Regions from separate parts of the Homo sapiens genome. Here region 2 is linked to region 1. Evidence: fine-mapped expression QTL. Tissue or cell type: tibial artery. Region 1 holds a variant in brackets; the other region holds the start of a gene. All regions are shown on one strand. Distances are from middle to middle.

The links. PIP is the estimated chance that this variant, and not a neighbour inherited with it, causes the effect.
Region 2: SNAP25 starts here. The variant in region 1 is fine-mapped to the expression of SNAP25 in tibial artery (GTEx, PIP above 0.99). The same link has a PIP of 0.9 or more in aorta.

The regions. Positions count from the first base shown.
Region 1 is chr20:10,299,480-10,302,241 of GRCh38, reverse strand. All of the region lies in intron 7 of SNAP25 (synaptosome associated protein 25), which reads right to left. Among named protein-coding and RNA genes, the nearest start is that of SNAP25-AS1, 81 kb to the right of the region's middle. RefSeq lists an enhancer at 829-1,746. The variant C/T (reference allele first, on the strand shown) is at 1,520.
Region 2 is chr20:10,217,591-10,220,359 of GRCh38, reverse strand. It overlaps SNAP25 (synaptosome associated protein 25), which reads right to left and starts at 1,530. Exons shown (of 8, transcript NM_130811.4): 1 at 1,383-1,530. SNAP25-AS1 (SNAP25 antisense RNA 1) reads left to right here and starts at 854. Exons shown (of 5, transcript NR_040710.1): 1 at 854-1,123.

The DNA of each region.
Region 1 (2,762 bases):
TTACTTATTAGAGATGGGATCTTGCTCTGTTGCCCAGGCTGGAGTGCGAGTGCAGTGGCACGATCATAGCTCACTGCAGCCTGGAACTCCTGGGCTCAAGGAATTCTCCTGCCTCAGCCTCTGGAGTAGCTGGGACTGCATGCCTAACTTACCACTGATAACTTTAAATCAAAGTTTGAACATTGCTAAGGTATTTCCTTAGCAACAGTTCCCATAAACCCTCTGATATAGGCTTGCTTCCAATTCAGTAAGTTTTCTGAAAAAATTATGTTTTTAACCTTAGAAGGTATATCTATATATGGTTATTTTTATATATGGTTTTTATATATATATAATAACCATATACATATAATATATATATTATATATTATATAATATATATAGTTATTTATTTATATATATAAGGTTATTATTTATATACATAAATACCCTTAAGCAGAAAACGAGATTTTTAAATAAAGTAATTTCTTGACAATCCATGAGGATGTATTGAAAATCTCATTGTTAAGGACTCCCAAAACTTCACTATTGATCCAAGTGATGAGAAAAGATCATGATTGATAGAGCTGGGTAAAGGTTGCTGTTGGGGTCATGAGAGATTATGAGAGAAACATCATAAGACTCTCCTTACCCCTACAGTGTGATTGCAATTACATCTTAGATATGCAGGAAACTTCCACATACTGTCCCGTTATCAGAAATGAGAACTTCAATGAGAAGGTGGAAATCTATTAATAATTGTGCAGTTCATGCGACATGATCATTTGGGGCAATGCTGGGTTGAAGTGGGCTCTATTTAAATCATGTGTGGATTTTGATTCTGGAAAAAAAAGGGGCTATTTAAAGTGCTGACTGGAAACTAGTTATTCAAAGGCAATTAGACCCTTCTCCCACTTAAATGATTCTGCACTCAAGGAATGATACAAATTGAAATAGTCATTATCCATCCACCTGCCTGGCTTCTGATTAAACCTTGTAGCTGCATATGTCTCTGTCTTTATAGTACACTGGGCGTAGAAGAAAAACCTTCTCCCTAAAGATGAGAACTAGAAATTCAAAGTGGCAGAATCAAGATGCCACTTGCCTTTCCAGGAACACATTTTCTTGCTTAAAGTTCAACTCTGTCAATAAGAGTTTGACCCTTCTATTAGTAAAGACGCTCCTTCTGGAACCCTAATTGGCTTTGATGCATTATCTAGCTGCATCTGCAAGTAAAGTGGGTCCATTAATAGAAAATGAATACTTCCTGTTTTTTTCAAATTGTTTTTTCTGTTGGAGGGCAGCTCAGCAATGATTTTTTAGTTCATTATTCTGGGCCGTAATGGGTTAGGTCAGCTTGTGTTGGCTCTAGTGAGTTTTGAAACTCTCATTATTATTCTAATATCTATTGATTTACACAGCTTTAAAAGCTTTATCATATGAAAGCCTTCTTAACAACGATAAGCATGCCATTACTTGCAAAAGTAAGCAAAGCACAAGTATTTTGCCAACCAACACTAAAGTTTGCGTAGTTTTCATA[C/T]TGATCAGGCAAAATATGCAATCAGATATTTTTAACATGGAGTATGTACAACACAACAGGACAAAGTGTTCCCTTTATGCCTACTTACTCCTTTTTCAAGTCATTGGAGGTTGCTTGCATACCAAGAAACTACTATTTAGATTTATGATTCTAAAAATCTTAAAAGTATCCTTCTCTGCTCACCAAAATGGAATGAATTATTATAAGAAAATTTAGGATATCAGACAAAGAACTTCAACGTCTCCCAGGGAATAAACACACAACATAAGTTACCCACATTGAGTAGATTATAGATGTACAATTATCGTTAAATCTATAATGTCTCTTTTTCTCCTTTTTAGCATTTGGACATAAGAGTTTGTAATCAATATTCAAGACCCTACTGATTGAGGAAAGGGCATGAAACATGGAAATATAAATTATGTCGGAGTTCTGTGTTGTAGAATATCAGGTTTTGGTGCCCTAGGTCTCTTTATAGGAACGTTCCAGTGTTTCTTTCCAATCTCTTCTAATTTTAAGCCCCCAAACCCACCCCTTCCCAGTCTACTCCCTCCAGTCTTTCTTATGGCCCACGTTGACATGGTGGATCTTAGAGCCAAGTCTGGTGTCCTTGTGTAAACTCAATTTCATCATATAAAATTCCCTGTTTTTAGAACTGGGGATGTGAACTGTTAAACTGGAAATGGAACCTGGATATTTTTGAATTCTCATTAAAGCTTTGGCATTTATAAAAGCAAAGCTCATAATCATGTCCTGGCTATACTGACTATTCTTTCTCCCATTTTCTGATTCTATCCCTTCACCACCTCCACTTGACAAACTATTAATACTAACCATCCTTCAAGATTCAATTCAAAGTCAACTTATTCTGAGATTTTCCCGAACTTTGCCTCTTGAGATCTTTCCTTATCTAACCTTGTTTAGCATTTTATCTGTGGATCTCTTAGTGAATTATATTTTGAGTGATAGAAAATTCATCTGGAGGCTCGTAGCCTCCCATAGGCCGTGAATTTCTTGGCAGTAGGGGTGGTGTCTTTCTCATGTGTACATGGCCCACAGTGCCTAGCACAATGCCTGGCTGACAGGAGCCTTTGAGAATATTTGCTGGATTAAATTTGACCCTCTTATTTTCACTCCAATTCTGTTGCTGAGTCCTATATTTTTCTCTTGGAAAATGAAGAACATTTCCAGCTATCAGTGCGCCTGAATCCAAGGTCGTGTTTTGAGGATCTTGTTATGCCCT
Region 2 (2,769 bases), 82 kb after region 1:
TTCCAGTAACTCTGAAACCGTGGCCAAAGAGGTTAAATCTATTCAGTACAGGACCAGTAAAATTTCTCAGATATGTGTTTTTGTGGATGAATGCTTGTATTCATGCCTGATTGCAAGGATGGGGGAAGAAGGAAAAGGAAGAGTGATTCATTCTTAAAGTTGATTCTGCTTAGTTCAGCTAATCTCACATTTTTATCAAATGGAAACATAGAGAGAGATGTATCATCCCTATAAACAGATAGCATTGGCTTCTTCATATATACAGTACTTATGCTCACCCAAGATCTGTAGACAGATCTACTCTGTGTTAAAAAACAAAACCAAACAAAAACCTTGATACCCTGCTGGAGGATAAATCCATATTTTTTAAAAAATGTATTTATTTTCTACGTAAAATAAGGGTCAGAGGGCAACACAGAAGATTTCCACAAGTAGACTATTTTGTTGAAGCTATGCAGGAGGTGAGGAGGGGAACAGGAAATTGTCTGCAAAGGAGTCTCTGTGAGGAAGATTTATTTCTTTCTTGTTTTCTTTTAAGCTACTATGACTCCTCTATTAAGGGTCTCCGTAAGACCGGGGTCTCAGGGAGACAATTTGGTCTCCAGCCCTGGCACATCCAGCCCCGGCCAGGCATTTCTGCCGCAGGCAGATGAGGCGCTGCGGCCGGACCGCTGTCCCCGGTGCTGAAAGGTCGAGGGCGCCCGCGCGAGCCCTCGGTGTTGCTATCCAGGGTGCTGAGCGCGGGCCGCCGCAGTCCCCGAAGCCAGCCCACCCGCGCCAGCCCTCCGCAGAGCCCTCCCACCCGGCACGACCCGCCCGCCTCCCGCCAGCCTGCAGTTGACGTGGAGCAGGCGGCATAAATCAAGTCCGCGGGGCATGGAGGCTGCTGTCGCTGCAGCAGCTCAGCTTGCCCGGGGCGGGAACTCCCCCTTTCTCCTTTCGCCTCCCCAGCACCCACACCCTGTCTCCCCCTTAATTCTTCCCTGGATAATAGCACCCTAACGACAACAGTCATAATAATAGGGTTAGAACGACAGGGGAGGAAAACTCAACAGCCTAAATATCTCTGAAAACTGCATCGCAAAATGGAAGAAAGAGGGGGTCCCACTACTGTTTCAAAAGAGTAAGTTATTATTCGGTACGTACCCTCGCTCTTCCTCCCCGTCGCTCCATTTGCAGGGCTCCCGTTTCCCTTTTCCCCAGCAGCTCACCTCGAAAACACTTTATAAAGCCCCCACCAGACGTGCACACACGGAATACCGCACCCTAAGTGCACCAATACTTGTATTTACCCAAGCCCACTCGGACTGCCCAGCTGCTGTCCCTTCTGGGTATGCAGCCATCCCGAGCCAGAGCCACGACCTGGGGAGGGGGGTTCTTACCTGGGCTTCTCGGGAGGGTTGTGTTCTCCGGGCCTCTGCAGGTTGCAACTGTGGTGGAGCCGCCGAGCAGGGAGGGAAGGAAAGACAGCGCCTGACCTCCCCGAGGTTTCGTCTTCAATGCAACGTGAGCTCTGCCCTCATCAAAGATGGCCGTCCGTTTTGACGTCAGCAGCTTTTAATAGCCGCCCAGCGAGGGGCGGGAGGAAGTGGGGGCGGGGCACGGCGGGGGCGGGGGCGGGGCCCGGGCTGCGGCGCGCTTGACTCGGTTCCCAGTGCGCTGGCCTGCAAACCTGCGTGTTTTCACCTTCTATAAACACCCGCACGGGGCGACTCTTATGACTCCATTTTAACACTCGGTCTTGGGCAAACGCGTTCATCCCGCAACTGCATTCCTGATGTTCTTTGGTGTGTGTGCGTGTGTGTGTACATATGTGTATATGTGTGTGTATGTATATATGTATGTGTGTGTATATTTTATAATACATGTATAATATATGTATAATTTGTGTGTATGTGTATATATTCCCCCCCACCCCCACCCCCACCCCCTTTCAGTGGAATCTGTGGTTGAGTCATCTAAGGAGAGGGGAAGGCAGAGGAGGGGTAAAAGGTAGTGATGGGAGGGGTGGGGGAAATTTCAGCGGCGATTTGTTTTCTCCGAAGAGGGTCCGTAGGGGCATCCCCGTCCACCCTCGCCAGCTCCATATATGGCCAGGCTACGTGGGTTGCTATTTTTATGAGTGATTGCTTCATGTTATCGAAGCAGCGTCGAGGGCTTGTGGCTCTCGTTGCTGTGGTCAGCCGGGCAGCGAGGCTGGCGCACGTTATTTTGAACTACGTCAGAGCCAGGCTCTCTGAGCTGTTGCAGGAGTCGGGGGAAGGAGAAGGGAAGCGGAGTTAGCCCAGCCAGCGTGGGTTTGCAAGGACTCGAGGCTTGAAGTTGAGTTGTTTGCCGAGGGCAAAAACGGATGACTCTGCTTTCGGTGGAATTTGCAGTCGGTGCTGGGGTTTCATGCTGGGTGTCTTAGGGGTACCCCACGGAGGCACAGACGCCCCGAGGGAACCGTCCAAACGGCCGGGAGGAGGTGGGGGATTCAGAGCAAGGACGGCTGGGACACGGCCGAATCTGGGGGTTCACTCAGTGCGCAAACCCCGGGGTACCCGTGCAGGCTGCCTCGGGGGGCCCTCGGATGCTCAAATCAGGGCGGGGAGACAAAGGCTACTTGTGCTGGTCGTATTAGAGATTAAAAGTGATAATTATAAAGCAACAACCCTAACTGTCCTCCCTGGCCGTGCCCGGGCCCGGGAAGGGGGTGGTGCGCGGATCGCTCGGCGGTGGCAGCCTCCCGGATGATTCACAGGTGTTGGGGAGGCTGTCGCGGGGCTC